3 linked regions of the Homo sapiens genome follow. The protein of the gene in region 3 interacts with the protein of the main gene of each other region in a pairwise test. Each region holds a gene or a part of one and is shown on either strand. Other genes may lie near its edges.

Region 1 (10,666 bases), on a different chromosome or scaffold from region 3:
AGTGGCTCATGCCTGTAATCCCAGCACTTTGGGAGGCTAAGGTGGGAGGATGACTTGAGTACGGGAGGTGGAGGCTGCAGTGAGTCGAGACTACGCCACTGCACTCCAGCCTGCGTGAGAGAGCAAGACCCTGTCTCGGTAAATAAGAGACCGTTGAGGAGGGGCAAGGGGCCGCCTGGGAGCCCCTGAGAGTTGTTGGGGAAGCACCTGCTGTGCTTGGAAGGCTTGGATGACATTCACCTGGACACTGTGTGCGAGGACAGCAGTGAAGCACACAGGAGAAACTGAGCCAAGAAAAACAAAAGTGGCTCGAGGGGGACGCACGCTCCCAGCGGCTCTGCTGGAACACGGGGCGCGTCCTTTAAGGGCAAACCTTGGCTGTGACAGCACAGGGCGTGCAGACTGCACCTCGTGTAGCAAGGGGCGTGTGGCGAGGGGCTAGGAGGGCTGAAGATGCCACTTTAAACAGCAAATAGAGTTTGAAAATAAAGCAAATACGAGAAGACATTTCTGAGAGTTGAATGTGGCATCCCCAGGGAGCTGCAGTCCTGAGTGGGGAGCTGGGACACAGGCTGCTCAGGAAACGGTCCCCTCAGCACCCATAACTGTCACCCTGCGTGCTCACTATTCATCAAATAAATAAAAACAAAATTAAAAAGCTGCTGGCCCTACTCTGCAAATACTAAAATTTCTAATTAAATTGTGACCATGTTCTCAAAAAACACTAAATCGCTGAAAAATCCAACAGATTTTTTAAAAAGTTAGAGCACCTCAAAAGGTGACTGACTTGTAAAAAGACAACAATTATAGAAAAAGTTATGAAATGAAAAAAAGGACGGTGTGGCAGGTAACCGCCACAACAACTGATGCGGGCCAGGGCAACCAAGGGAGGCTGAGACCAGTGGGCGTGAGCATGAGAGGGAAGAGAATACTCAGTCTCCGCATCTCCCACAGAAGGAGGTGGAGGAAACCTGGCAGGCACCATCACAGACAAAGGCCCAAGTCAAGCCCACGCACCTCCCGCCACGAGGTCCGGGGAGACGCAGCCCCCCACGCACCATCGCGAGGACACGCCACAGTCAGCGGCCCCTCGGCTCCTCTCCAGGGCCGGTGCCCCGAAACCCACAGCAGAGAGAGGGACGTCCACCCCAAGGGGAGGGAAAGGCAGGGTGGGCAGGCAAGGCAGCAGAGCCTGGAAACATGGCGTGCACCGCCCCAGTCTCCATCCTGCCAAAGACACCTGAACACAGCCTGTGAGCTGGGGTGTCTTTTCCATAAAGGACACTACTGGGACAATGGGTGAATCTGAGCAAGGTCTGTAGCTGTAGCTGAGATGCCAGCCTTGGATCAGGGTGAACATTCCAGGGTGGAGCGTGGCCCGGGCCAGCAACCTTGGCTCTGTGAAAGGTACAGGCGTGTTTTCAGAAGTCAAGAGGCCCCAGGTGCACGCCCGACAAAGCGCAGAGCCGGGGTGGAGGTCAGCGGGGGGCAGACGCAGAACCAGGCAAAGGATGCAGGAATTCTTTTGACTATTCTGTGCTAGGAAACCACTGAAATAAAAAATTAAAAATGAAAGATAACCAACTCACTTTTCTCACTTCTATCAGCTTTTCCTTCTAATCCAGGAGGAGGTGAACTTAATGTTTCTTGAGAATCAAAGGATGTTGTGATAAAATCTTCGACATCTTTCTCCTGTTAAGAGATTTTTAAATGGTCATAAAATAATGAGTAATTACATCATAGCGCTGACTTTGCCAGGTGAAAACTTTCAAAGGCCTGAATTTATCTTCCCACATAGACCCCAGATGAAACAACTCAAAACTGGTGAACACACAGGTCGAATGCTTCCAACAATTTAATCAGATTCACCCACAGCTCTTTAGGAATATTTTAATGTAGCCAATAGTAAATATTTCAGATTTAAATTGTTTTGCATGAAATGATAGTATATGGATGTTTCAGATAATATGTATCTGCTAAATTATTATTTTTTGAGGGAGGGTCTCACTCTGTCACCCAGGCTGGAGTGCAGTGGTTCAATCTTGGCTCACTGCATCCTCAACCTCCCAAGGTCAAGTGATCCTCCTGCCTCAGCCTCCTGAAGAGCAGGGACCATGGGCGGCACCAGCACGCCCAGCTAATTTTTTGTGTTTTTTTTGTAGAGACAGGGTCTCACCGTGTTACCCAGCCTGGTCTCAAATTCCTGGGCTCAAGCAATCCTCCCGCCTCAGCCTCCCAAAGTGCTGAGACTACAAGCATGAGCCCAACCATACCTGATTTTTAATTTTATCTTACTCAAGATACACAAAATCCCAAAATGATTATGTTAGAAATAATACGATCTAACTCATAAATTAAAATTAATTAGCATATGTGAAACCTGTTAAAAATATGAAGCATTTCTGGCTGAGCATGGTGGCTCACGCCTGTAAGCCCAGCACTTTGGGAGGCTGAGGTGGGTGGATCATGAGGTCAGGAGTTCGAGACCAGCCTGACCAATAAGGTAAAACCCCGTCTCTACTAAACTACAAAAATTAGCCGGGTGTGGTGGCGTGTGCCTGTAGTCCCAGCTACTAGGGAGGCTGAGGCAGGAGATTTGCTTGAACCTGGGGAGGCGGAGGCTGCAGTGAGCCGAGATTGCGTCACTGCACTCTAGCCTGGGTGACAGAGCGAGACTCCATCTCACAAAAAAAAAAAAAAAAAAAAAAAAAGGAAGCATTCCTAAAAATAAATCTAAAAAACCATTCTGGACAAAGAACCCTATGCCCATCACACACGAAGACGTGTCTGGGCTATGCCCGTTGGAGTCAGCGTCAGTGGAGAAGCATGCCCAGGGTATGTCTGAGGCAGGCAAATGCATCTCAGGCATTTTAAAAATACCTGAACAACTGAAATAATCTAAATGCGCCCATGATGCCAGTCCTGCAGAGCTGGCCCCACACAGCACTGCGAGGTGTGTGCTGTCAGGAGGTGAACAAACAATGGCAGCTGCCGTGGCGCCGGGCAGACCACATTCCCACGGGAACAGCAGGCCTGGGAGCAGAGCAGGCACCTACCACAGCCGTCCTCTGCACATGGTGGTCGTCAGCCGGCGGAGACTCGGCCCACTGCAGTGCCAGCGCTGCTGCAGACACGCCTGGGGAACAAAGCAGCCCCGGCCCCTGGGTCTGTGGCAGCGAGGTGTCCGCCCTGTCCCCCAGGGATGTGTCGGCACTGCACAGGCTCAGGGCTCCTGAGTGGGGTGTCACGGGGAGGCTGGGCCAGGGCTCCAGGGTCCAGTCCTTCCTGAGGACCTCAGGGGAGCTCCAGGAAGACAGGTCCAGCATCCCGACCGGGCTCTTCCGGGGCCCAGCCTCTGCAGTGTGGCTCTGGTGGCGGGAGCCACCAAGTACGCTGGTCGGTGAAGAAAGAGACATGTCCTGACATTCTGATTTTTCTTGAATGGGAGAATCTGGCATTTCATCTGGTATCAAGGAATCCCAATTTTTGATAACATCAGTTACACCCCCTGGGGTTGTATTGGCATCACACGCGTCTATGGCCTGATTTTTGATAACATCAGTTACACCCCCCGTGGCTGTATTGGCATCACATGTGTCTATGTGGGGTGATATGTCAGGCTCTTCTCCGTCACAGGAATCATCACTCCAGCTGCTCTCCAACAGGTGTGCTGAGGCCATGGGCCACAGAGATTTGGTGTCGGCAGCATCCACATTCTGGAAGGTCATGGAATACAGCAAACGGTTCAGTTTTTCCTGAAGCTGTTTCACCTGAGCTACGAGATCGACCTTCGGCAGCTGACAATCTTCCAGTACTTTTTCTTTACCCTGCAGGTGAAACAGAACAGGTGCACGGTGGAATACCTGGCTCACCAGGAGTCGCACCTGTCTGGTGTTAATGAGTGGATTTCAGGGAGTTTCGGAGCACTCGGGTGATTCCACAATGAGCCCTGCACATTTCAAGTTTATTTAATTCTATGAGAAACAGAACCAAGGCTTACATCTCCTTGCTTAAAAGGCAACTGTCATAACCTATTTCTGCGGTGATTGAGGACACAAGCTTCATACAAGGGAAAAAGGATGGGAAGGTTCTATATCTGAGCACCGAAAACACAAAATTGTGGTTTATGTGATGAATTTGGAGTTTCTGTGTGTGTAACTTCTAAGAATTTGGCAGGCAGGGCTGAGCTTTCTCTTAAGAATTCAAAAAATTGGGCCGGGTGCAGTGGCTCACGCCTGTAATCCTAGCATTTTGGGAGGCTGAGACAGGTGGATCACGAGGTCAGGAGTTCGAGACCACCCTGGCCAAAATGGTGAAACCCTGTCTCTACTAAAAATACAAAAATTAGCCAGGCATGGTGGCGGGTGCCTGTAATCCTAGCTACTCGGGAGGCTGAGGCAGTGAATTGCTTGAACCCAGGAGGTGGAGGTTGCAGTGAGCCAAGATCTCAAGATCTCGCCACTGCACTCCAGCCTGGGCGACAGAGCGAGACTCTGTCTCAAAAAAAAAAAAAAAAAAAAAAAAAAAAAATTCAAAGAAACGTTCCTGTCATGAGGGCCCCAAGACTGTTTGCCGCAGGAGATGCGAAGGGCTCTCCACACAGGATGTATTTCCCGAGAGCACATGACAAGCACACGAACCAGGTTCATGGGTCTCCTCAGAACTGCGGGCCTAGGCCCATCCTTCCCTGATTTCTGTGGAATTAAGAATCTTTCAGGCTCTAAACGCCAATGAGGTGCACGCAGTGTGGACCCAGGAACAGGCGGCACCTGCACTCATGCAAGAAACGTCCCAGCGACGTGCGGGACACTCACGAGGGCTGCGAGGGGCTCGGGTGAGCCCAGGTCTCAGCAGGCTTCAGCACCAAGCATGCTTCCGTGCCACCCTAGAGACCATAAAACACCTGCCCAGCACTTCTGGTGTTAGAGCCTCTGGGTTTCAGAGCCTGGAGGAGTAGTTGGGGCACATTTAGCAAACAGCAGGGAGGAGGGGGAGGAGGAAGAGCAGGGTGGGTGGCTGTGTGTCCAGCAGGAGGAGGGTAGGTGTCTGTGTGTCCAGGAGGAGGAGGAGCAGGGTGGGCGGCTGCATGTCCAGGAGGAGGAGAGTGGGCGGCTGTGTGTCCAGGAGGAGGGTGGGCGGCTGCGTGTCCAGGAGGAGGAGGGTGGGCAGCTGTGTGTCCAGGAGGAGGAGTGTGGGCAGCTGTGTGTCCAGGAGGAGGAGGAGGAGCAGGGTGGGTGGCTGCATGTCCAGGAGGAGGAGAGTGGGCGGCTGTGTGTCCAGGAGGAGGAGGAGGAGCAGGGTGGGCGGCTGCGTGTCCAGGAGGAGGAGGGTGGGCGGCTGCATGTCCAGGAGGAGGAGGAGGAGGAGCAGGGTGGGTGGTTGTGTGTCGAGAAGGAGGAGGAAGAGGAGAGTGGGCGGCTGTGTGTCCAGGAGGAGGAGGGTGGGCGACTGTGTCCAGGAGGAGGAGGAGGAGGAGGGTGGACAGATGTGTGTCCCAGAGGAGAAGGAGGAGAAGGGTGGGTGGCTGTGTGTCCAGGGAGGCTGCGCTGGGCCTTGGACTGGAGGAGGCGAGGTGCAGACAGTGCATCAAAAGGTGCCATCTAAGGCTGGGCGTGGTGGCTCACGCCTGTAATCCCAGCACTTCGGGAGGCTGAGGAGGGTGGATCACCTAAGGTCAAGAGTTCAAGACCAGCCTGGCCAACATGGTGAAACCCCGTCTCTACTAAAAATACAAAAATCAGCTGGGTGTGGTGGCGCATGCCTGCAGTCCCAGCTACTCGGGAGGCTGAGGCTGCAGAATCACTTGAACTCGGGAGGCAGAGGTTGCAGTGAGCTGAGATCGTGCCACTGCACTCCAGCCTGGGCGACAGAGCAAGACTCTGTCTCAAAAAAAAAAAAAAAGAGAGAAAAAAAATAAAGGTGCCATCTGCACCTGATGCGGCCTGAGGAGAGGGCAGCTCCTGCGCAGGTGTTTCCTAGGGGCACTGGGGACCTGCCCCTGGTGCACTGGGTGGGAGAAGCACCAGCACCCGCTTTTCTCGCTAAATCTCCACCCTGCTACAATTTGAGATGGTCAAGGTGCAACCTCCTTCCCCGGGGAAAAGAAGTGCCAGCTTTTTTTCAAGTGACAATATGGAGTGAGGTGAACAGATTACAAGAATAAATCTGAGGCCTTTCAAAGTAAAACAGACGCTGGCCATCAAAGTCCTGAGCTGAGGTGAGGCCCACGGGGGCGATGTGGTCCTCCCATGAAAAGACAAACCAGGACTAACCCTCGAGCACAGTTAAATCCATTTGGATCAATTACAAGAAAAAAACCCAACTGATTGTTTCTACAGAGTGGCTTAAATGAAGCACGTACGAAATTTCACAACAGTTATGGACAGCTCGTTACAGAACAGAAAGGATTCAGAGAACATGTCACTGCAGGCACGGACTGTGCTCCTCACCTCAGCAGAATACCCGCCTCTGCCCAGGGCAAGACCCACATGTTCTGCACCCAGCCTCTCCCAGGGGGGCCTCACGCCTTCCCCCCTCCCCACACCTTGCTGCCGCGTGTCCAGCCTCTCCCGGGTGGGCCTCGTGCCTTCCCCGTTCCCCACACCTTGCTGCCGCGTGTCCAGCCTCTCCCAGGGGGGCCTCACGCCTTCCCCCTCCCCACACCTTGCTGCTGCGTGTCCAGCCTCTCCCGGGTGGGCCTCGTGCCTTCCCCGCTCCCCACACCTTGCTGCCGCGTGTCCAGCCTCTCCCGGGTGGGCCTCGTGCCTTCCCCGCTCCCCACACCTTGCTGCCGCGTGTCCAGCCTCTCCCGGGTGGGCCTCGTGCCTTCCCCGCTCCCCACACCTTGCTGCCGCGTGTCCAGCCTCTCCCGGGGGGACCTCGCGCCTTCCCCCCTCCCCACACCTTGCCGCCGTCCTCCAGACTCAGGCGCATTTCATTTTTCACCAAGAGCAGCTCCGACTGCAGCTGCCTCTGGCAGACGGTGAGCACTGACATCACGCCTTCTTGCTTGCAGAGAGGTGCATCCTTCAACGTCACCAGGACAGGCTGCAGATCACCCTTGACAGAGGAGACAGAGGAAAGCTGAGCATGCAGGAGGCTGTTGCTGGGGCTGCCCCTCAGGTGGCCTGGAGCTGGGAACCAGTACGGCAGCCAGCAGGGATGCCAGAGGGAGGTGGCAGTGACATCCACAGCCGAGCACCTTGGTCCACAGCAGGCCACATGGGAACGGGGCTGAGGACCCAGCAGAAAGCTGCCCCGACCCAGGACGACCCCACAGAGCAAGGTGGACTGGGGCATCTGAGAGTGGGAGCCACTCTACAAAGACCCAGCTGGTGTGGGGGTGGTAGGCACCAAGTTCCCAAGGTTCTGCTCAAATACAAGTGGAAGCCTTAAAAGACGACTCCCTACAGGGCCTCCAGCTCCAAAAGAAGAGCTCGCTCGCCACATCTCACACAGGCACTGCTCATCGACAGACAAACCATTTGGTTAGAAACCAGAGAAGCAGCTTAAGCGGACCCTCCTCACATAGTGAGCTCCGTTTCACTGGACAGTCCCTATTATGTGAAAGAAAGAATTGTTTTTAAAAGCTTAAAACGATAAGCTTAAAATGGTACAAAACAGTGAAATCCTCAGCCCAGCTTCACTGCGTACTGACACGGAACAGGCCCAGGCTGGCCCGAGCTTCAGGCCCCCTTTCTCCGCTGTGTCATGAGCCACCATGACAACTGCAGCCCCCAGTGCCCAGCGCAGAGAGAAGTCATTGACATCAAAGGAGAAAAGGAGAGTAAAAAAAAATACCCTGCCATGGCCCGCGGGGGGAGCCCACCTGTGGGTCAGGGACAACCGGCTCCAAAGCAGCATCATGGGAGGCCTCCACGTCGCCGGTGACCTGGGCCTTGGCGCCACCATCCATGCGAGGCTGTGGGTGGGCCCCGGGCACCCGTGTGTGAGCTGTGGCTCTGCGGGCCTGCCGCCTGTCCAGCTCCACCTGGCACCTCAGGAACCGCTGGTGCAGCACCTGCAGCTGGCGGCTGAGGCGGGCACACTGCGCTCGGAGCCACTGCAGCTCGGGAGGCGCCGCCCCGGCTGCCAGGGGCTGCTGCTCCAGGGCGCGGCGGATGCGGGCCAAGGCCAACAGGACGGCCTCCAGCTCGGCAGAGTGGGCCGCCTTCCGCTGGTTCAGAGCGTCGATTTCTAAATTTCTCTCGGCAATCGTCGCTTCCTTTGCTTTCAGGGCCGCTTCGAACTCCTGGATCCGGGAGGCCATGTCTTCGACCTCAGCCTCCCTGAGGGCTACATTGCGCTCCAGCTCAGCCAGCTGTAGCTCCGCAGCCTCCTCTGCGCCCTGGAGGCGCTGCTGCAGGGCCTCCAGGGCCTGGCTGTGCCTGCGCTCCTGGTCAGCCAGCAGCCGGCTCAGGGCCTCCTTGGCTTCCAGCGCAGCCTCGAGCTCGCCCTGTAGGGCCTGCCCACGAGGGCCCCCGGCCTGGGAGCAGAGCAGCTCGCTCTGCAGACTGCCAGCCTGACTGTCGCTGACTTCGTGCACCACAGGCCCCATGAGGGACAGCTCGTGCTGCAGCTTCTCAATGACTTCATGGAGTTGTTCAATTTCCTCTGCTTTCTCCTTTTGTAATCGTTTCTGATTCTCTTGCAGATTTTCAATAGTGGCTTTCAGCTCTTCAATCTCAGAACTTCTGGTATATATGACCTGAAGAGAGAGGACATTTCAGAGGCAAATTAAATGTATCCACTTCCGAATGTCCCTACTTCAGGGCACGTTACATCCTGAATGCATTCTTGGAGTGAAGACTCCATAGCGTGAAAAACAAAGCAGCCATAGAAGCAAACTGCTGGTGCCGGATGCACTCCACACCCACCTTGGCTGCCACTGGGCCCTGGTGCACACCTTGTGCTCCACGTCTGATCGTGGGACGAAGCTCTAATGCAGTCATTTTCCATGCAAGGACATCTACAGAATGATGCTTTCACCACCCTTTAAATGTTATTTTGTTAATATTTAAACAACTTTGATTTGTTTGATTTTCCTGAAGGTGCATTAGATTTTAGGTGTCATTCTGACTCCAGGAGGAAAGTAAGAAACCTAGGCAGAGAATCTGCACCAACAAAGCGGTGAGCCGGGCACGCTCCCCTTCCATCCCAACACTGCTCGTGGTGACGCTGGTGATGAGGCGTCTCTGCCACTGCCACTCGGTGACACCAGGCATCGAAGTGAGTTTACTTGTGCCATGAAACATAATCCTCAGCCATGTAAGGAAATACGATTGTTTCCACTTTAAAGACAGGAAAATTGAAACTGAGATATTAAACATCTTTCTAAACCCATAAAAACAGTAAGTGGAAAATTAGGATTGAGATGTATGTCAATATAGCTCCAAACTCTATTCTCTTAAGATAACATTCCTGGTAATGACAAAAAATAGAAAAATTCTAATCCATTTGTGCTCTAACAATTTTAAAACTATTTGTTATAGACTAATATGTTCTTCCAAAAAACTGAGGGTTTCATAACAACTCCAGGTTTCTCTGGAACTACCTCACAATTACTCTGGACTCAAATGCAAATCTGGCCTACAGAAAAAAAACAAAGGAACCGGATGAACCTGTGGCTTTGGTTTGGACGCTGTCAACAACACCTTCCTATGCATTTACCACCGATGAACAACACCATGCATTTAGCAAAAGCAGCCTCCCAGCTGCGGGCTAGGAATGCCCGCTGCACATTCTGCTCCCCGTCGCGTGCCTTACTGTGTGCGGCACCGGCCGTTGTCTCTGTACTCTACAGGCACGCGAAGGAATTTCGAGGACAATTCTGATTATACGCAGCTTCTGCTCATTCCCTAAATGCACTAAATAAACTGGAATCAAGGGGTGCGCACTGAAGACGGTCATAATCACAACGCATATATCACGTTAAAATACTGGAGCCAGCATACGAAGGTAGCTCTAAATGTAAAACACCAAAACCTGAAATCAGTGAACTGAGGCCGGGCGCGGTGGCTCACGTCTGTAACCCCAGCACTTTGGGAGGCTGAGGCAGGCAGATCACTTGAGCACAGGAGTTCAAGATCAGCCTGGCCGACACGGTGCACCCTGGTCTCTAGTAAAAATACAAAAATTAGCCGGGCGTGGGCACCTGTAGTTCCACCTACTCAGGAGGCTGAGGTGGGAGAATCACTTAAACTCTGGAGGCAGAGGTTGCGGTAAGCCGAGACTGCGCCACTGCACCGCAGCCTGGGCGACAGAGCAAGATAGTGTCAAAAAAGAAAAATAAAAAGCAAAAAGCGTATGCAAGCATATTCAAGGAGACCTGAATGCAAAGTAAAACTATGAAATTTCTCAGGAAAATTGGGCTAGGGAAAGAGCTCTCAGAACTTCAAAAGTATAATCTGGCGGGGCACAGTGGCTCACGCCTGTAATCCCAACACTTTGGGAGGCCAAGGCAGGCGGATCTTCTGAGTTAGGCGTTCGAGACCAGCCTGACCAACATGGAGAAACCCCGTCTCTACTAAAAATACAAAAATTAGCTGGGCATAGTGGCAGGTGCCTGTAATCCCAGCTACTCAGGAGGCTGAGACAGGAGGACTGCTTGAGCCTGGGAGGCGGAGGTTGCAGCAAGCCAAAAATGCGCTACTGAACTCTAGCCTGG
Region 2 (10,459 bases), on a different chromosome or scaffold from region 3:
TCCCTGTTGTAAGTACTGGATAGAATATATACAGGATGTTAGGAGAGCACTAGTGAAAATTAATCCACCATGAGTGGGTAAATGGTGTCACAGCACCTACTCTGCGCCAGACACTGGTGGTTAGAGGGAGGAAATGAGTGTGTGGTCAGTACAGGAAGCAAACAAGTAAAGGACCAGTCACTCCAGTGTGCCATGGGCGGTGATGGGGAGACACTGAGCCCCGGGGCACCCAGAGGAGCAGTAGCCATCCTAAAAGAAGTGCCAGGTCAACTTCCTGGAAGAGGTGAAACCTGAGCTGACTTTAGAACAAGGAATGGGTCAGCCAGGCCAAGTTGGAAATGATCATTCCCACTGTCTTCCATTATCTCATTTGAGTCTCACTCTACTGCAATGTGATAGCTGGATCAGGGATGATTATTCCGATTTTACAGATGTGGGACTAAGGCGTTGACTGTAGAGAGACTTTGTCCTGGAATGTGTGGCCTCTGGAGCCATGACCAGAACCTAAGTCTTTGTGAGCTCTTAGCCCCAAGGAAAAGAATCAAAGCAAACCTAATGTTTAAAATTAGGATCTGTTTGGGAAGAACTGTCAAAGTCCTTGTACCTGACATGACTGGTTAATCTTAAAAGTAGGTTAAGTCAGGGAATCAAAAATGATATGTACCTTAAACATTTTAGTTTAACTTAAAACAGATAAATGTACATTCATTTGCCATTCTTTTGATGTAGGGCCAGGGCCTTTTCTTTTGAATATGGGTCTGCTGATTGGAGTTTCACATCTTCTTTCTTTCATAAACTGCATCCATAATGTATGTCTGTCACTTCCAATTTCTGTTTCTTTAAGATGAAGAGAAAACTTAGACACTTGCAAAGCAATTTGAATATAGAATTCTTCTAGACTGTGTTCCTCCCACATCTTTTATAGTTGTCTCACCCACACCTAATTTGCCAGAAATGTGTTTTTTAGTGACTTGCTTTTATCAAGTCTTTCCTGAAGCATATGTTAGTTTTCATACAACCAGTTCTCTCTTTTAATACACATATTTCATGGGCTTACTTAATATTTAATTAAATTATGCAATTTGATTACAAGTACAGCTACCATAAACAAGTTTGGGAACAAACTAAAGTGACTCTTCGTGAGCTGACAACTCACCAGCTCTCCTGTTGGAAGCAGAAGTGTTTCGGCGCAGCAGAGAGCGGCCTGTGCCACGGTGCTTTTCTGACAGAAAGGGAGTGTCCTTCCCCCTGGGAGCTGGTTTGGTGGAGACTGGCTCAGAGGGCTCCGCCGTGCATGTATGTCACCTCAGAGCACTGGGGACTCTGGTTTTGCCACCCATCCAGAGTTTACTCTGGAAAACCAGAAGAGTTTCTTCTAATGGAGCATACTTTCCTAGTAATACTTTTATATGATCTTTTGAAGATTTAAACATTGAAAAGTTTTTAAAATCAGCATTATAGTTTTTGTAAAAGAAAAAGATCACGCAATTTGAAATCATAGCTCATGGAGAGAATTGCTGTTAACATTTTGATGACATCTCAATATACACATCTATGGATGTGGGCGTTTATATTCAGTTTTGTGGAACAGGAATGCCTTTTATACAGGACGTGTTGTTCTGGGCTCTTTTGTCACTAACTGTGATCATTTTTTGATATCAATGCATAGAGCTCTACAACGTCATTTTTAATAGTTGCTAAATTATTGTATTATATGTAAGTACCATAATTTATCCAGATCTATACTGAAATCAGGTTATTTTTTCCTACCATGAACAATGCTGAGACGAACATCCTTGTACATAGGCATCTTCTTGTGCTTATGTTATTATTCCTTGGGGGAAATGCCAGCGTGTAGAATTGCTGGGGCAAAGAGTTAAGCGCATCTCAGTTTGGTAGATCTTGCCAGGGCGTTCTCACTGGGCCATGCCATCCCGCACTTCCACCAGAGGTCACGAGGTGCTTTCCCCTTACCCTCAATGAGTTTTGTCCAATTTTGCCTTTTCCTGGTTGTCAGGAAAAGGCTTCTAGTTTCCATTCAAATATTTTTGCTAGTGAGGTTGAGCATCATCTTTTTATATGGCTTTGTAATTCTTCCTGTGTAACATGATGTTTATGTTCTTTGTTCATTTTTCTAATTTCTCTTCTCTTTAGATTGGAGAAATGAAGGCAGAGGTCACCAAACTACATAAAAAATTGTTTGAACAAGAAAAGAAGTTGCAAAACACCATGAAGCTTTTGCAGCTGAGCAAGCGCCAGGAAAAAGTCATCTTTGATCAATGTGAGTGAGTGTGGGGGTGGCCGCTATGCCTGACCACTTCCTGCCTCCGAGGGCTCCCAGTTCTGCCCTGGATTACCCACTTTGGAGCCCAGATGGTTTGTAATCATGCCTCCTATCTGTGGGCTTCTTTTCATACTCCATCCTTTCTGACTCACATAGACAAATGTATTCACTTAACACACCTTTGTAGAGCGGCCTTTTGGTGTCAGGGACTGTCGTCTCACTGGGAGACAGTCGTGTGGCATGTGCAGTGATGGGAACATGCAGAGCACTGGGGTGGGAGTTGGGTGGCCGTCACTCTGTCCCGGCAAGGTGGGCGTCTTAGACAAAGTGACCACCTCGCTGAGTGTGAAATGAAAGCAGACGTCGTCACATGGAGCGGGGAGTGGCAGTCCCTCAGGGAAGAGCATGGACAGAGGCACAAAGGCAGGAAATAAGTTTTTGTATGTGAGAAACCAAAACCAGTCCCTGTGGGGTAAAGGCTGCAAACAGTGAATTAAGGTGGGAGGGATTGGGGGTCAGGGAGTACTTCATGAAAGACTGTAGGTGGCAGGCTCAGGGCAGAGGATTGGCCTGTCACATCTGTGTGCAAGAATGGCTCGCTGGTGGCTGCTCCACCAGTGAGGGGGAGGCTGACTCACTAGTCAGACAGGAAAGGTGGCTAGGACGCTGGGGATCCAGAGGAGGGCATGGATTTGAGAAATACTTCTCAAGGCAGATGCCGAGACTCAGGGTTGGTGAGGTTAAGTAACTTTTGTAAGGTCAGTCCCAGTTCTGATCTAGCCACTTTGGAGATTGTTTGGGAGCAGCTCTGTCTCCTGGTTTAAACCCTCAGCACTCCCTCCCGCTGCATTTAGAGGAGCAGGCGGTAGCTGAGTTTCCATTAGTGCCTGTTGGCAACATGGCCCTGGCCAAGCCTGCGCTGTCTGTGTGTCAGTTTCCCTGTCTTAAGAGAACTGCTGACTGCAGCACTTTTTCTCTGGAGGTGCCAGCCTGCCTTGTGCGGCTCTCCTGTCAAAGTCCAACATTTCTGGGGCATTTCTGAGAAGCACAGGACAGAGATTATTGCCAAGTAGGAGTTCTCCTTAGCCACCCCTGGGAACCTTCTGAAAATAGACTCTGTGAGACTGCCAGTGTTTGGACTGCAAAAGAGAGGAGCGCAGCCACTGAGCAGGCACTGAGTTCCTGTTCTTTGCCCCTTACGCCAGGTCCTGGGGACAGAGATGAACGAGACAGTCTTTGCCAGTGAGGGTCGTGGGCTTAATAGGGGAGACACAGAGCTTAGCTGCAGGACGATGTGCTGAGTGCATCCTAGGAGGCCTGAGAGGTGGTTCAAGACTGACTGGGTCTTGAAGAATGACTAGGAATTTGTCAGCGAAGGGGCAGGAATAGGATTCTGGCAGATGGCCCTGTGGACTTGCTGGTGTGCTCCCAGGGGTGAGAGAGAACTGAGTGCTCAGGGACATGCTTAGGACGTGCAAAGGGTTTTCCTCTGAGAGATGAGTGAGAGGGAGAAGCAGGAACCAGGTTGCAAGGAGCCTTGTGGACAGGACTCCAGGACGAGCAGCAGGGACCGGCGGGGTCCATGCGTGTATTACAAGATCCCATGGCTGAGCTTGGAGGGGCCAGGAGGCCGGGAAGACCTCTTTGGGGGCTGCAGCAGTCCCCCAGGTGGGCAGTGGGTCAGGACTGTGGGGGAGAAGGGATGGTTTTGAAAGATTGTAAGGAGGTCAACCTGGCAGAGTGGTGGATGTCTGTGGGGTTCTGGTTGAGGGTTTCGTGTCACTCGTAGAGAAAAAGAGCACTGAGGGGAACCTGGAGAGAGACAGTGCCAGCTGTGGTCCTGTTAAGGCAGCTGTGGAATATTTAGGTTAGACTCTTGGAGCAGCAGTGGGGTGGGGAGCAATGCTCTGCATAGGTCTAGAGAAAGGCAGAACTCTCTGCATTGGCATCTCTCCTCCTCAGCAGCCTTTGGCCCTGAACAGTCACAGGGCAGGTAGCTAACCCTATTGACAGGTGAGAAAATTGCAGAAGTAGGTTTCGATGGGTTGAGTACTGTGGTCGGTCAAAAGGACAGAACTAGAACCCAGATCCCCTGTGTCCTAGGTCAGAGAACATGGAATTATTGATTGAGCACAGTTCAGATCTCCATTCTCCTATGTGACCTGCATTAGACTAGAACCCTAAGCTTTCGATTCCTCATCTCTAACTGGAGACGTGAGTTCCAAAGGACTCAGACTAACTAGTTGGTCCCGGGTTCAATAGCAACTTTATAAAAAGCACCCCAGTTTTCTCATCTGTAAAATAAGGATGATAACGCTACCTAAACTGTATTGTACTTAGCACAGTCTCGGGGGCAGAGGAGATGCTCAACCAGTCCCTCCTCTTTCTTTCCATTAGGCCAGACCAAATCCTATGCATGGAGGTGGCAAATCATTCATAGTAAGAAGAGCCGCAAATGTCTCATAGCACTTCCCCTCCTGAGCTGGTATTGTCCATCTCCATATCTCCTAGGCCTGGCACAGAGCAGGCTCCGCCAGAGCAGGGTGAGGGGCTTGCTCCAGGCAGCATAGCTGGTGGCTGACCCGGGCCTGCAACTCCTCCTTTGCCAGGCTCTGCAGCTCATCCCAAGGAGTCAGGTCCTTGGAAATTCTCCAAGCCCTGCGGACTTCACAGACCTGCTCTGGGTCTAAAGGGACTAGGAGAAAGTTGGCATAGCACCTCCTCTTCCTCCGTCCCCTCATGGTGATGGGGAAGAGCAAAGGCCAGGGCTGATTGCTACCTGGTCAAACTGACACCATACCTTCTCAGAGTCTACAGGGGAAAGTAAGGAAAAGGCATCCCAGTGGGACCCTAAGAGTCCTGATGCCCTGGGGCCACTCACTGGCCATGTGACCTGGAACCAGCTGCCTCAGGTCCTCATTTGCAAAGCGAGGACAGTAGTTCTGCCCCATAGGGTGGGGGAGTATTCAGTGAGGCCACCGTTGGAAACCACCTGTCACCAGGTCAACACTGCTCAGCTCAGGTCGGTACCTTCTTCCCAGCACTCTGCTGAGGTGGGAAGAACCATGGACTGAGTTGGGCAGGCCCACATGTGAGTCCCAGCTCTGTGCTGGGGCCAGTCTAGATTTGGGACGAGTCCTTTGTCGCTGTGTTCCTCGGTCTTCTCCTTGCAGTGGGGATTTCTGTGCTTTGGAACGTGGCAGTGCTGTTGAGGTGTAGGGGTCCCCTCAAAGCTTGAGCCAAGTGATCCTTAGTTCTTCTGCCATGAGCTTTGTTCTCTAGGGACATGGAGTGCTCTTTCACAATCATCTTCAACCTCCACAGCTGTGATACTTAATCTTTTCTGGGTCTCAGGCCCCTTGGTGAATCTGGAGAAAGCTGTGGTCTCTCTGTGGAAAAATGCGGACGTCCAGATACATACCCCCATTTGCACACAGTGTCGGAGGGTTTAGGACTGACCCCCCAAACATATCCAGGGCCCCATGTCAGGAACTTTGCCCTGCAGCAGGAGGTCAGGTTGGGGTAGAGGGGCAGTGGCCACCTCTGAAAGTCGTTTTGCTTGGCTAAAAACAAAGTCCACACCGTCTGTCCCGTCCCCAGTGTCACAGATTGCAAATAAACTCCATTACCTCCAGATGGAAATTTTCGTGAGGCAAGAAATCAATATTTTCTCAAGGCCACCACACGACAGACACCTATTCTGAAGAAGCCACTGGGGAGTCAGGCTATGTGTGTTGGGCGTTGAGTCTGTTACAGCCTCTGGCACTGTTGGCTAAAGGCGCGGCTCCAGAAGCCTTTGGTATTTCCAACGTGGGGAGTAAGCTGATCTTACTCTCACCAAGCCCTGTTGAGAACAGATTCCCTATCAGGCTCAGAACTCTGATCAAGAGGGGCATTCTTGCCACTGCTGGAGTTTGTGTTGGACAAGAAAAAGCCTGAAGGAAGACCCACCTTTACAGTTGCTCCTGAAAGCCAGGGCTCGCCTGCCCCTCCTGGGAATTCTCATGCACGGGGGATCTTTCTAGTACAGTGCTCCGGGCGTCAGTGTCAGCAGGGACCTCTGAAACCATCCCACCCAACCAGCTCTTGTCCAGGCAGAATGTGACTTGCCCAGAGGAATCAGGCTGGGCTATTCCACCAGCTAAAGGGCAGGCAAAGGAGAAGCAGCATGCCCACGGTTTTTTCTTCCAGGCCATTTGGAGCTGGCTCTAAGAGCTGCTGGGTAAAAACCTGGCTTCGTAGAACTTGGACCCTCATATGTGGGTCTGCCTGATCGGGGCACAGTCCCTTCCCACAGCTGCTTCCCAGAGGGCCTAGGAAACTAAAGAGTGCTGGGCAGGCCCAGGCCTCTACCCTCCCTGCGCCATTGCCCTCCCTGGCCCACAGAAGTGAGCCTGAGGGATACCTGGACAGCCAGGTGGCCGTGCACAGCTGTAGGGTGTTCTCTGAACCGGCATAGCATGCTGTAGCCTCTGCATCACTGTCAGGTGGTGGCTTAGCGGGGCCTCAAAGAGGTGTTGTTGATGCGTTATTTGGCCCTGGGGTTTGTGATGGGTCAGGTGGGCCCTTTGTACCTCCCTCTGGTCTGGATGCTTCAGACCTCGTGTTGTCTACATGTCCGAGCCCTTTGGGGTGGGGTTCATCCTCCCTGCACTTGGCTTTCACACAGCTCTCCTGGATATCCATGGCCCTAATCATTGCATTCTTTGCTCTCTCCTCAGTGGTCGTAACCCACAAAATCCTTCGGAAGGCCAGAGGAAACCTGGAGGTATGCCCTTTGAGTCTTTTCACTGCAGGCCAGTGGAAGGTCAGGAGGAGTGCAGGGCCAGAAAGGACCTCTTGAAAAATGAAGGTGCAGGTGGAACCAGGGGACATGTCCTCCTCAGAGAGTTGTTTCTGCCAGCAGTGCATGAAAAGTTGTGTTTTATCATGCCCTGTCGCCAGTAGGGGTTCTAAGTTTTAAATTTGTATGCTATTTTTACCAGTAAGAAATACAGCAAACAATGCTTGACACATAGTAGGCATTTGATGAATATTTCTTGAATGAATGAATACAGTATGATCTCATCGTTGTTTATTAGGTAAATATTTACTGACCAAACTATGTTTTTGAAAGCACTTTGAGAATAACAGTCTCGCTTTCACCTCTGTCGGGGTCTTACTTCAGAAACCTCCTTTGGACTTAAAATTCTCCTTTTTTTTCTTCCTTTTCCTAGCTTAGGCCTGGGGGAGCCCATCCAGGAACATGCAGTCCCAGCAGACCAGGCTCCTGAGAAGAACTTTCAGCCAATAAAGCTTGTGCTTCCCCCACCGAGCTCACGCTGTCTCTTTGTTCCAAGTGTGGTTCCTATTTATTGAGGAAGAAAGAGCTGTCTGGCCAAAGGAAATCTATTTTTTCCCTTCATGTTTTCTCTCTGAAAGTTGGCTTGAGAGTTGTTGTCAGAAAGGTGCAGGTGCTCCACAAACGGGTGGTAAAAAGGCCTCGAGCTCTTGGATGTTGTATTTCAGATCAGGGGCAGGCACCGGAGTTGAGGCTGTGCGCCTTGGTGGGCTTCACGTCTTCCCCTGGATTTGCTTAGTACTCAGCCAGTGCCACAGTTTGAAGATTCTCATTAAATGATTCATTTCATTTCACCTTGACGATTCTGTTGTTTTGTGTGGCGCCTCAAAGCCCAGGTCCCAAAATCCCAAGTGGGACAGGCCAGGGTTCCACGAGTCGCATGGCTCACTGCTGAGCTCGTTCAAGTGTCCAGAGAAGAGCACCTCCGTGCAGCGTGGCCATGGGCACTGGTGTGTGCTCAGCATCTCACAGTCTGCTGGACAGCAGCCCTTGCAGTGGTGCCATTCCCGATTTAGCAAAGAGCAGAGTGAGGCCCAGAGCTGGAATGTGGCATTTGCATTGTTCCCGTGATGACAGGGGTGTGTCATCAGCCATCCACATCGCTGCCTCTGACCAAGATGCCCCCAGCCAAAACACTTTAGCGGCTTCCCACTACCCTCTGATCCAAGCCCGAGCCCCTAACAAGGTTTACAAGCCTTGCTGGCACCTCCAGCTCCTTGCCCATCTCGCCTCCTCCCGCTCCACTCTGTGTTCCAGGCAAACGGAACAGTGTTCTCCCCAGTCTAACCCAGGCTGCGCCCTCTTGGACATGCTCCTCCCACCCTTTCTTTTTCTAGTTAGCTTTGAATGGTCCTTTAGAAATATTTTTTCTGCCCTTGGGGAAGCCTCTCCTGACCCGATACTAGGTGAAATGCCCCACCTCTGCTCCCGCAGCCCCCACACCACTGTGCAAATCCTCTGAGCCCCTGGAGAGCAGAGGCTTGTGTTGACCATGGAATTGCCAGCACCTGACCTGGCGCCCAGCTCCCCAGACACGATGGTGAGGGGAGGAGACGGGATTGCACTTGCTGGAAGCGTAGGGTGCAGCAGCCCCGGCTGGGAGTCCGGGGAGTGGCCTCATGCCACTTTGCCTGTCTCCCCATCCATTAAGAGAGGGGCGGAGGAAGTGGGCAGTACAGACCCTTTCTGCTTCGGTTCCTGCCATCTGTGCTCTTCCTGAGAAATATTTGCACAGGTGTACCTCGGTAGAATACGTACCAGTGTGTGAAAACTCAGATTGAGCCATAATGTCACTGGAGTGCCTTTCGCAAGCAGTCACAACAGTTGACTTCCTAAATGGAAGCTGGGTCGGTGTGGCGCTGTGGAGCAGGAGGCCTGGTTCCCGTCCCGAGTCTTGTGCTTCTGTAAATGAGAGTTACTCTTGTCCAGTACTGTTACAGAGTTCGGAGCCTCAGATTTTGAAAGCAGCTGAACAACAAGGCCCTTTCCACAAATCGGTGACTCTTCTTCACTGTCTCAGTGGCTGGTCTTAAGCAAGTTTTAAAGTACTGTTTTAAGTTCTATGGCTGTGTTGTGCCAAACCCCTATTAACCTCAGTAGGGGAGGCACCAGGTTCAAGGGGCCTGAGAAGAGACCCACAGAGCCAGCAAACAGGATGTGGGCTTTATTAGGGGCTTACATACAGGGGAACAGTCCAGAGGCGGCAGGCTGGACAGGAGAACTGCTTTTCGTACAGAAACAGATGGTTCAGTGGCAGCGGCTGAACAACACAGCCCACGGCCCAGGTGGGGCAGGAAAACCATCACCACTTATAAACAGCATGCAGTTTATATAGCATTTTCACTTAACCTTCCCCCAAGGACCTCTACCTGGGAACCTTTTTTTAACCCAAAACTCAGGGCCTCAGTTCCCTGTACAGCCCATGTCCCATGAGACGGGCTTGGGGGCTCAGATACTCCTCACAAACAAGGAACAAATCTCCGGGTTGGCCACTCCTAGATTCTCTAGCTCAGAACAACATTAAGACGCGTCTGCCATACAGGGTCGTTCTAAGGTTGTGCTTAAGCTATTGCTGTCAGGGTGTTTACCCTCCAGGCAGGTGTGCGCAAATGTAAGCATGTGTGGTTGCGGGGGCAGTGGGGAGGAGGGGAGGAGGTTGTACAGTGTAGTAGATGCAGCTCAGGCAAGGCCTGGAAGTCAGACCTGGGCTCAGATGTCCCCACAGGGGAAGAGTCCTACCTTGCCTGGCACATGGTCAGTGCACAGCCCATGGGAGCTGAACTTGGTCATTGGCAAGGGCTTGAGGTGCAGGGATTGGAGGAGAGATCCACATTGGATTCTGGTACATCCCAGGCCCGTCTGGTTGGTGAACCCAGGCACGCCTGGAGCAGGAGCTGCAGAGGAGGGGCTCCAGGAGCCCAGCTGGCCATTTGCTTCAGGTCACCCACAGCTTTTCAGGAACACAATAATCTAAAACGAAGTGCATTTTTATCCGCCAGTTTAGAGTCACGTAAAATACTTTCAACCTTGGGCTAGTGAAGGCCCTCCCTCTTCTGGGAGGTGGAGGAGCAGCCTGGTTTGTTTGGGCTGGATTAATGCCAAGAACAAACTGCAAATAAGACAATTTGGACCTTGGAAAAAGCTCCATTGTCCCTGGTGAGTTAATTTTACCAGCAGCTGAATTCGGGAGGCTTTGAAGCAGTAATCAGAAAATGCGTCAATTTCCCTTCAGTGAAATTAATCACCACGTGTGCTGGAGGAGCTGCACCTGAGAGAAACAGCTGCAGGGACTAAATATATAGTGAGAGGATTGGGAGACAGGCCCAGGGCCCCCT
Region 3 (10,960 bases):
CTGCTTCTGGAAGTTTTGCTTAGAGTCAAAAGAACAGAAGGAATCTCCCAGGGCCCTAGGAGGAGCCAGTGGGTCCCTGTAGATCAATGCGGTAGGGAGGGCTGTGGGCTAGGCTGCTTGGCTGTCTGTTCCCTCGCCTTCTCACTCACTTATCTGTTGGCTGACTGACCAGGGCTACCAGACAGCCTCCCAGCAAGGCCAATGTTCTCATTTACAAGGCAAGGTCTTTAGGTAGCCCTTTTTTTTCTTTTTTTTAATTTGAGATGGAGTCTTGCTGTGTTGCCCAGGCTGGAGTGCAGTGGTGCTATCTCACTGCAACCTCCACCTCCCAGGTTCAAGCAATTCTCCTGCCTCAGTCTCCTGAGTAGTTGGGATTACAGGCACCCACCACCACGCCTGGCTAATTTTAGTATTTTTAGTAGAGACAGGGTTTCACCATGTTGGCCAGGCTGGTCTCGAACTCCTGACCTTATGTGATCCTCCTGCCTCGGCCTCCCAAAGTGCTGGGATTACAGGCGTGAGCCACTGCGCCCAACCTAGATAGCCTTTAAAGAGATGTAAGTCACATCTACAAGGAGCTTGACTGAGTCCCAGCTACTCCTCCCCTCAACCCCAAGCTCTCTGGCCTCCTCAGCAGTCAGCAGAGTGTCCATGTGTAACAAAGCTCAATGTACAAGGATGCTGAGGGCTGAATATGTCAATCAACAGCACCTTTTTTCTCACTAAAGAGCAAAGCAGAAAAACACCTTCCTTATAACAAAAGTCACTGTCAGAAGAGGCTGTACCTGGACCACATGGGTGCATTTCCACAGACCACTGCTTTTACTATACTGACAGTTTTTATTTTTATTCATTTATTTTTTTTTAAGAGACGAGGCCTCGCTATGTTGCCCGGACTGGTCTCAAACTCCTGAACTCAAGCAATCCTCCCTCCTTGGCCTCCCAAAATGCTGGGATTACAGGTATGGGCCACTGTGCCCGGCCCTGACACTTTTTTGTGAGGTCATCAGGCTGCACGTATGAAGACTGAGAAGAATCTTACCGCTCTCAAGAGATACTATTAAGATTGCCACTCACTGTACCATAGCATTCTCTTTGGAGAAGCCATGGGAGAATTCTCTGGCCTCAATAACAGAAACAGCTGTCTCCATTCAGCAGACATTTTCACTTTATAAGTACTGGCAAAACTGATAAAAAAAAATTTCCCTCTTTGCTTTGGCTGCTACAAAGCTCAGGGCCAAATACACAATCTCACCTGAGTAAAAGGCATAGGACAGAGAGGTACTTGCCTTTTTGTGCTAATTTCTTCCTTGACTTTCTCCTATTTTTTTTTCACTCCATGTGCCTCAATTGCTGTTATTAAAAATCTTATTACATCAAAGTATGTTGGAACAATTCCTCAAATAGTTTTTTTTTAACAAGATAGAGAAATTGTTAAAACAAAAAATAGAAAAAAGCTCCTAAACCCAAGATTTTATTCCAATACCATAAGAAAATAAAACCCATTTACCCAATACTTCTAAAAAGCAAATGTAGATACTAGGGTTAGCACTTCACTATCAAAGTGTGATCCAGCACCAGCAGCATCTGCATCACCTCAGAGCTCGTTGGGAATGCAGATTCTCAGGTCCTGCCCCAGAACCTTGGAATGAGAACCTGCATTTTAGCAATATCTCCAGATGACTTGGTAAGAAAAATGTTTCAGAAGCACTGGGTTGGTAAGTAAGGCTGTTTCAGCACCCTGAGAAGGAACAACTAAAATAGCTTTACAACCATTCCTTGGGTGCCTATATGCCAGCCACACACAAGAAGAAAATTTATGGCCCTTGTCTTCAAGGCCTTTGCAACAGGACATTAGAAAAGGCTTACACCTTGTGGCAGGTTTTTAATGGCTAATTATAGAATACCACAGCTGAAAGGGAGTCCCCAGAAATAATAGTATTCCCTAGAAAGAATTTGAGATTCATGATGGCTATGTTAAAAACAGAATCACAGACCTGAATTTCTCCTGTGCCAGTTACAAGTGAGGAGGGGAAAGGTATTTGTTTTGGAAACTGGAAATAATTTAAGAGAAACCAATATGCCAAGGGAGCTTACAGCTACAAGGAAATGTGCAACTTAACCTGTTTCCTGTAACCAGAAAGTGGTGCAGGAAAACCTGGAAGTGACGCAGTGTCCCCCAGGAGTTGTATCTGACACTTCTAGCTGGCAGACAGGTCTAAAGCCAACAGGAACATTTCTTGGGCTTTTCATGATGTTGGTGAACAACATTAAAGATAGGAGACAGTTTCTTCATGAGAACAGATTTAAGTTATAAGGAGAGTCCACCTCCATAAGCTCTGCTTCTTTCTGGATGGATCAACCAGGTAAAGATTTTTTGTCAGCCACATGAGGCCCCCATCTATTTAGCTCCTCTGATTTTACATGACCATTTCAGATAACAGACCCCGTTAAGAATGTATCAAGTACTACTGTAACTCTTGGCCAAATTGCTATTTGGCACCAAATCAATCTTTAGTTGGTGGTGAGACTCCAGACACATAAACAGATAATCTTCTACGGAATACTTTCACTGTGGAAAGAGAATCAGGAAAGGCTAAAGGGATGTTTAAAAATCAGACATCAGGCTGGGCATGGTGGCTCACGCCTGTAATCCCAGCACTTTGGGAGGCTGAAGTGGGTGGATCACCTGAGGTCAGGAGTTCAAGACCAGGCTGGACAACATGGCGAAACCCTGTCTCTACCAAAAATACAAAAATTAGCGGAACACGGTGGTGGGTGCCTGTAATCCTAGCTACTCGGAAGGCTGAGGTAGGAGAATTGCTTGAACCCGGGAGGAAGAGGTTGCAGTGAGCTGAGACTGTGCCATTGCACTCCAGCCTGGCCAAGAAGAGTGAAACTCCCTCTCAAAAAAAAAAAAAAAAAAAAAAAAAAGGAAAAAAATCAGCCATCGGATAAGGTGTCAGGCACCGTGGCTCATGCCAGTAATCGCTTGAGCCCAGGAGTTCAAGACAAGCCTGGGCAATATAGAGAGACGTCATCTCTACAACAAAATAGAAAATTAGCTGGGCCTGGTGATGTGCACCTGTGATCCCAGCTACTTGGGAGGCTGAGGTGAGAGGGACTCGACCCCAGGAGGTTGAGGCCACAGTGAGTTGAGATCATGCCACTGTACTCCAGCCTGGGTGATGGAGTGAGACCCTGTCTCAAAAAAAGGGATCGGATAAGGACCAAAAAACAGAGAGATCCTGAAGGGTCAAGTACTATACAGATATTTCATATTGGTGAGTGTATTCAAGTATCCATTTATTTTTCTCCTAACGACTGCTAACAGCTAACAGCTACTGATCATTTTCTTTGTGCCAGGAACTATATTAGGCACTATACATCAATATCTTATTTAATCCTAATAACTCACCACACAGGTACTACTATTATTCCCATTTTTAAGGATGAGGAAACCAAGGCACGGAGAAGTTAAATAACTTAATGACACGCCTGTAATCCCAGCACTCTGGGAGGCAGAGGCAGGAGGATTGCTTGAGCCCAGGAGTTCAAGACCAGCCTGGACAACATGGCAAGACCCCCATCACCATTAAAAAAAAAATTAATCAGAGTTAGTAACATGGCAGAGCTAAAGCCTGTTTGACTTAGAGAGCCTGAGCTTAGCTGCCTTCCTAACCTGTAAGAATAACTCGCTCAAGAAGTTAAATAAATGTTTCTGTTGTGTCACCTTTAGACTACCACGCTGATTTTGTTTCCTTTTGGCTTCCTTCCATCATTGAGTGCCTTTTATGTTCCAAGCATTGTGCTAGGGGCTGGGGAAACCACAATACAGTGTGATGAGTAAAAACAGAGGCTGCAGAAGGTAGCCCAAAAAAGGGAGGAGTTATCAGTCGCAGGGTGGGGAAGTGCTTTAAAAAGCTTTGCGCAAAAGAGGTTAAACTGAATTCCTTGGGTTTTTTGTTGTTGTTGTTTTCTAAGTGGGCCAGAATTGACTCAACAGAGGGTGGGAAAGGGGAATGGAGGGAACAAAGTAAAAAGTGGTGACTTCTAGATCTTTCAACTAAACCCAAGGCAAACTGACCCAACAACCTTTGTTACACACTTTAACACAACACTCTTCATACCCTAGATCTGAGAACTGTTAGATTATTTACAAACGCTACCTCCCTTCGTGGTCCTGATGAATTCCCAGTGAGGTCCAATCTGCCCTGGCAGGCTTCCGCTCATTTTTGTTACAAACAATACACTAAACCCAACCTACTAATCATCAAGGGCCTGGAACAGGTTTTGGACATTCGTCCCCAGGCTGCTGAGAACTGTTCTAGTGATGACAGTTAGAAAGGGTAGCCCTCCGAGGCAAAAAAAATGAGACATCTTGATTTTTTCTCTCCGCATCTGGGCGCGGCGATAAGAAGACATCACTGGTCTCCATCTTTCCAGGGGGAAAGGCCCGAGCTGCATTAGCCCCGACTGGGGAGCTGGGTAAACAGCCCACGCCCGGGAGAGGCCTGAGGGAAAGTGACCTCCCCCGGGGCCCAGGCCGACCAGCGGCGCAGCTGCTCGGCCGCCAGATGCGCGGACTCGCGCACTCCCTCGCCGCGCCCGGGCATTCCCAAGCCCAGCCGCCCGCCTCGGCCCCGACCCCTCGGCCGCCACAGCACACGCCGTTCCGCTCGCAAGATGGAGGCGAAGGCACGAGGCGCCCCCGCCCCCCAGGGAGCCTTTGTGCCCTTGCCGGCGGGGACGCGAGGCCAGACGGCCCGCACCGCAAGGGCCCCGCAGGCACCGAAGAGACGCGGGGGAGGGGGCCGGGCGCGCGCGCGGATCTAGCCCGGGCCACCGCCCCCAGCGCCGCGGCACCCCCGACACCAGCACCCGCACGCGGGACACTGCCTACCTACCGCACCGCGAACGCTTCGCACGTCCGGAGCGGTCTCAGCAGCCCCATGCGCTGGCCCCGAGCTGGCGGACCCTGACTGCAACTGCGGCCCTCCAACCGCAGCCCAAAACGCGCAGGGCAGGACCGAGCGCCAACCACGCCCTTCGGCCGCGCTGACCACGCCCTTCTTCCCGCCCCTTCTCCCTCCGCGGGAGGGCTTTCGGCAATTTCGCGCAGCGAATCGCAGCTCTAAGTCCGCGGCTCCACCAATACGTGGACGCTCCTGCAAGATGAGCCCGCCCCCTACTTCGTCCTGGCCTATGGGAAGCCGGGACTTCTTCAGCGGCTGTCCTCCCTCGCTTTTGGAGCTCCGACCTCAGCTTCGCCTGCGAGCTGGGTTGTGTAAAGGCTGGTCATTTTGGGGCGCTTAGGGGTGGGTGCCGGGGGGCGCGCTTTCCCTCGTGAAGGTCGCTCCAGGAGTCATGCGTACATTCGTTCATTTTGCTCTGGACGCACTGATGTTCCCGGCTCGCCGCCGTGCCGCAGTCACGAGGCTCTCCGAACGCCTTTCACTGTGTTTCTGTTTACATTCGCGTCTGCAAGACCCGGCGGCGCGACCGAGGCCCGAACAGGTGCTGCGAGGCGGGGCGGGGAGCCAGTGCTGAGGGGAGCTCCCCAGGCCGGGTGGTTGAAGACAGCTTCTGGGGGGAGGTGGAGCTCTGGCTCGTGGAGAATGGGAAGGGTGTGGAAAATGAACTGGTAGCTACTTAGCCACTCTGAGCAGCCTGCTCTGATGGGAAATCGGTGATGGAGTCGGAGGGAAGTGGGAGGCAGCTTGTGGGAGGCCAGGGTGCTCACTCTCTCCCCTGCCAGCATGGGACCTAGTAACTTTCATACATCTCTATCTATCTATCTATTTTGCAAAGATGGGGTCTTGCTGTGTTGCCCAGGCTGGGCTTGAACTCCTGGACTCAGACGATCCTCCCGCCTCGGCCTCCCAAAGTGCTGGAATTACAGGTGTGAGCCACTGCATCCCATCCCCTAGGAGCTTAATGACACTGCCCTTTAGCTTTTACTGCTTAGCAGAATCCGGAGGCATAGAGGAACTACCACCAGGGTGGCGTGGGGAAGAGGCCCTCCCTTCTGATGATTTTCTCTCAGCAGCACTTTCAGCAATCTGGCTTCAACTGAATATCTCCCCAGTTCATAAAACAGGCGTCTGTAAATGTCAACCCCAGCTGGGTGCAGGGTACAAATTTTTTCCTACAGAGCTCTTGAGTCCCAGGTAGTTTAGGAGACAAGGACTTGTTTGGTTTTCCCAGACCTGTCAGGACAGCTCAGAGGTTTTGTCTAACCCAGGGGCCACAAACTTTGGACAACAGCAGCAGCTAGCCCACAGATGGTTTTATTTGGGCATCGCATAGCTTTTCTTTGTTTGTTTGCTTTTGTTTTTTAATAAGAATTTGAATCCCACCACCACCACTGGTCCATTAAGTAACAGCCAGCCTTCACACATTTGCTGCCTACCTGAAGGCATTTGTGTTTGTGACCCTTGATCTTTTCTATACACAGAAGACCTCCAGTGGAGTCACCTAATCCCACAGCCAAGTCACCCCTGCTGGACAGAGAACTGTACAAAGTCCAAACAGGCGTACATATCCTGTATGGTTTCCTCATCTATAAAGAGAGGGGATAGGATGAAGGAGTCCCAAGGTTCCTTTTGGTTCTGATGTTCTGTAATTTTGTGTTGTGAGCAGCTTTTGTTTTTGCCTGACGGGAAAACTTTCCTTTGGGAATTGTCTGCAGTCCGCTGGGTCAGATGGTTCTTTAGCACCGCACTTCTCCGGTCTCCCAAGGCAGGATGGGTGTGGAGAAGGGGAGGTGTGGAACCCAGGCCTGACCAGCTGTAGTCTCCCTCCTCTTGTTTTCAGATTTCCCCAGGGATGCGCACATGACCAAACCTGAGATGATCTGAGCCCTTGTCGGGGATTTTAGAGAATGAGGCTGGGAGAAAGAGGCTCTTTCTTTTGGTGTTTCTGAGCGCGGGAAAAGTAGGCCTAGAGCTGTCTGTAGTTATACTCCTTGCAGCAGCAATGCTGGAGAACCAGGCCTGGAAATGTTAGGAACCAGCTAAGCCATCCTGCTTTGGTACTCTGATTAGGGTGCGTACCAGCTCCTTTGGTGGTGACATGAATTATTTTTCAACTCTTCTCACTTAAGATTCAAGTTTTGGGAAGGACCATTTACTTGGCCTAGTCTAGGTTATGTGCCTGTGTTCTGATTGCCAATAGGCAAAGAGAGTTCTGGTTTCTACTGTGGCTTCTAGTCTGGGAGGCCTAGCCTCATACCAAGACTCAGTGTGTGGGGGCCTCCCCTCAAATAAGAAGAATGAGACGCTGGGTTGCCAAAAGTTGCTTCACTATAGTCCGTCTCTTAGGCTGCCCAACATTCACAGAAGTGCTTTCAAAGGTAAATGAAAATGCTGCCATCCAACAAAATGCGAGCATCTCTCCTATAACAAAATTTACTTATCCCTTCCCCAAAGCAGGGCATCTCAAAATCTCCTCATTTACTGTATTTGGCCCAAGTCTAACTTCTGTAGGTGATGTTCCATTCTTCCTTTCAGTTTCATCATCATCCCATCCCATCGTTGTAATGTGTAGACTAAATTGTAAAGTTAAGCATCACTGATAGACTTTAGATACAATTGTGAAAAGAAAGGAAATGAAAGAAAAGGACAATAGCTAAAAACTCCATTTATATATAATACAGCAAGAAGGGAAATACTGTTAGAGGTTACGATCTTCATTTTTGTAACTGGTAATGAAGCTTTATTGTCATTTACAATTTTCCTTCTCCGCTAACCATTCCAGGTCCCTCTTTCCTTCACGCAACCCCTCAGCTGGCCAGGATTCTTTGCCTGGTTGGGTTAAGCAAGCTTTTGTTCTTGAGGAGGTTGCCTGTAGGTAGGTTGTCTGTAGTTTGTCTGTAGGTGGTACAGTACATTGCCATCAACTTGTGCCCTGGCATGAGAGTGATGAGGTGCCTCAGGAGATCTCCTGTGTTCTATTACTGCTCCTCTTGCCTCCGTGGTGTAACAGCAACCCCACTTCCTCCTGAGAGTCAAAATCAGTCACCAAACAACATGTGACCTGTGGCATGAGGAGACCACATCAATTTCAGTTCTCAGTTAATAGGAACCATTGTTGTAGGTTCTGGTGAAAGCATTGTACTAAAATATCTAAACCAGCTGGTTTGAGGAAAAGCAAAGTATAAATTTTGAGAAGAATCATTAGGTATGATTTGAGAAATACCACACCCATTGTTACCAGCAATGATATTCTGCTGTGGAAGAAACTATTGGTCATTGGTTCAGAGTTTTGTCTCCCAGTGGGCACTTGAACTAATTTTTTTTTTTTAATTAAAAATTTTGGTCAGCTGGTGGCTTCTTGCTTGGTGGCCAGGAGCCAGATTTCATTCTGGGCAGGAGCAAGGTGCAGCCAGTGGGAATGCAGGAGAGGCCAGGTGCGTGTTTTGGGACTTTCGGAGCAGCAGCCTGGGAACCAGCAGAGAAGATTCTGTCTTCCAGAGGTTGCCACTGTCTGCCAACTCACTTGTCTCCATCCTCAGTCATCTTTTAAAAGTACATAGCGACACTCTAGCTGTCTGGTTCTTCATGGGGAATGTAATTGAAGTCTGACATCATTCCTATTGCCCTGAAGTCTGAAACTTAGTGTCATTCTCACTGAAAATTGCCTTGGAGTTTGACAAACTCTTTCCCCAGTGATATTGACAGGTTGTTTTGTTTTTGTTTTTGTTTTGTTTTTGAGACAGTGTCTCACTCTGTCACCCAGCTGGGGCTGGAGTGCAGTAGCACGATCTTGGCCCACTGCAACCTCCACCTCCCAGGTTCAAGGGATTCTCCTGCTTCAGCCTCCCAAGTACCTGGGATTAGAGTCACCCACCACCACGCCTGGGTAATTTTTGTATTTTTAGAAGAGATGGTTTCATCATGTTGGTAAGGCTGTTCTTGAACTCCTGACCTCAGTTGATCCACCTGCCTTGGTCTCCCAAATTGCTGGGATTACAGGTGTGAGCCACCACACCTGGTCAGATCCGAGGTATTTTGAACTAAACAGAACAGCAACCAACATCCATATAAAGTAACTACAAGAAAAAAATTAAAAACCATTTTAACTAATGAAAATTCTTTCCACCAACCACAATTCCATCCAACAGCCAAAAAGCAGAGGAAAACTAACAGTATTCTTCATATGAATTAAATATCATTTAGTAAGCAGCTGTAGCTATAAAGAATACCAAAAATCAGACATTAAAAAACTCAAAATAGAAATGGACACAAAGCAGAAAACTATAAAATGAGAACTGATGAAATTCAGGAAAGAAGTAGAAGAAAAAGCCAAAATAATCTTGAGATATGGAAACTAAATTACATTGTGTCCACGGGAAAATAGGTTAGCCTTAAAAGTCAAGAAGGAACATTGAAAATAAATTTAAAACAGCCAAGAGAACCCAAAACAAATTTGGAAAAGAAGGAAAAATATTAGAAAAAAAGTGAGAGATATAGAAGATAGACAGAAGTTAACATATGCATCATTGAAGTCTCCAAAGAAAAGAAACATAACAATGAAAGAAAGCTATAACTGAAGATAGTTTTCTGGATATAAAATAAAACATGAATTTTTGGGACCAAAGGTACCTTGAGAAACACTGAGTCAGTATCATTAGCCTCAGTGAAATGCAAATCAAAACCACAATTATAGCCACTAGGATGGCTATAATAAAAAAGGTAACGTGTTGATGAAGATGTGGAGAAACTGGAACTCTCATACATGGCTGGTAAGAATGTCAAATGGAGGCTGGGCACAGTGGCTCACACCTGTAATTCCAACTCTTTGGGAGGCTAACATGGTAGGATCGCTAGGGCCCAGCAGGTCAAGGTTGCAGTGAGCTGTGATCGTGCCACTGCACTCCAGCTTGAGCAACAGGGTGAGACCTTGTCTCAAAAGAAAGGAAAAAGAAAAAGTATGTCAAATAATACAGCCCCTTTGGAAAGCAGTCTGGAAGTTTCTCAAAAGATTAAGCATAAAGTTACCATATGACCCAGCAGTTCCACTCCTATATATGTATGCAAGGTAAATTAAAACGTATGTTCATACAAAAACTTGTACATGATTGGTTATTGCAGCATTATTCACAAGAGCCAAAAAGTGGAAACAACCCAAATACCCATCAACTGATGAATGGGTAAGTAAAATACAGTATATCCATAATATGGAATGTTAAAATGGCAGTAAAATCAATGCTACAGAATGTAGACGGACATTTTTATACAATGTGGGTGAACCATGAAAACATGCCAAGTGAAAGAAGCCAGTCACAGAAGACCACATAGATGATTCCATTCGTATGACACATCCAGAATAGGCAAATCTATGGAGACGGTGGATTAGCAGTTACCTAGGGCTGCAAGAGTTGAGGGGAATAGGAAGTGACCACTAATGGGTAACAGTTTCTTTTAGGGGTAATGAACTAAATTTGATTGTTCTAAAATTGACTGTGATGATGCTTGCACAACTCTGAATAAACTAAAACCATAGAACTGTGTACTGTAAATGGGTGAACTGTATGGTAGGGAAATTAGATCTCAATAAAGCTGTTTTTTTTAAAAAAAAGATATAGAAGTCAACTTGAAGGACTTTTTTTTTTTTTTCTTTTTTTTTTTTTGAAACAGAGTCTTGCTCTTTCTCCCAGGCTGGAGTGCAGTGGCATGATCTCAGCTGACTGCAACCTCTGCCTCCCAGGTTCAAGTGATTCTCCTGCCTCAGCCTGCTGAGTTATAGGTACTTGCCACCACACCCGGCTAATTTTTTTTTTTTTTTTCCAGTAGAGACAGGGTTTCACCATGTTGGCCAGGCTGGTCTCAAACTCTTGACCTCTGGTGATCCATCTGCCTCAGCCTCCCAAAATGCTGGGATTATAGGCATGAGCTACCACACCTGGCCTTGAAGGACTTTTTCATTGGCCAAATTTGGGACAATCTGCAAATAAAAA

Evidence for each region.
Region 1: the proteins of CEP68 (region 3) and PCNT interact in binary tests that used the Homo sapiens proteins (3 or more experiments, as listed by UniProt).
Region 2: the proteins of CEP68 (region 3) and CDK5RAP2 interact in binary tests that used the Homo sapiens proteins (3 or more experiments, as listed by UniProt).

The regions. Positions count from the first base shown.
Region 1 is NC_000021.9:46,409,230-46,419,895, reverse strand, and holds part of PCNT (pericentrin), read right to left. Parts: intron 8,708-10,666; coding exon 7,829-8,707; intron 7,060-7,828; coding exon 6,904-7,059; intron 3,828-6,903; coding exon 3,057-3,827; intron 1,693-3,056; coding exon 1,590-1,692; intron 1-1,589. UniProt on the Homo sapiens protein: Integral component of the filamentous matrix of the centrosome involved in the initial establishment of organized microtubule arrays in both mitosis and meiosis. Plays a role, together with DISC1, in the microtubule network formation.
Region 2 is NC_000009.12:120,386,334-120,396,792, reverse strand, and holds the end of CDK5RAP2 (CDK5 regulatory subunit-associated protein 2), read left to right. Parts: intron 1-2,154; coding exon 2,155-2,281; intron 2,282-7,005; coding exon 7,006-7,052; intron 7,053-7,500; coding exon 7,501-7,557; 3' UTR 7,558-7,918; downstream 7,919-10,459. UniProt on the Homo sapiens protein: Potential regulator of CDK5 activity via its interaction with CDK5R1. Negative regulator of centriole disengagement (licensing) which maintains centriole engagement and cohesion. Involved in regulation of mitotic spindle orientation.
Region 3 is NC_000002.12:65,050,472-65,061,431, reverse strand, and holds the start of CEP68 (centrosomal protein of 68 kDa), read right to left. Parts: upstream 5,017-10,960; 5' UTR 4,904-5,016; intron 1-4,903. UniProt on the Homo sapiens protein: Involved in maintenance of centrosome cohesion, probably as part of a linker structure which prevents centrosome splitting. Required for localization of CDK5RAP2 to the centrosome during interphase. Contributes to CROCC/rootletin filament formation.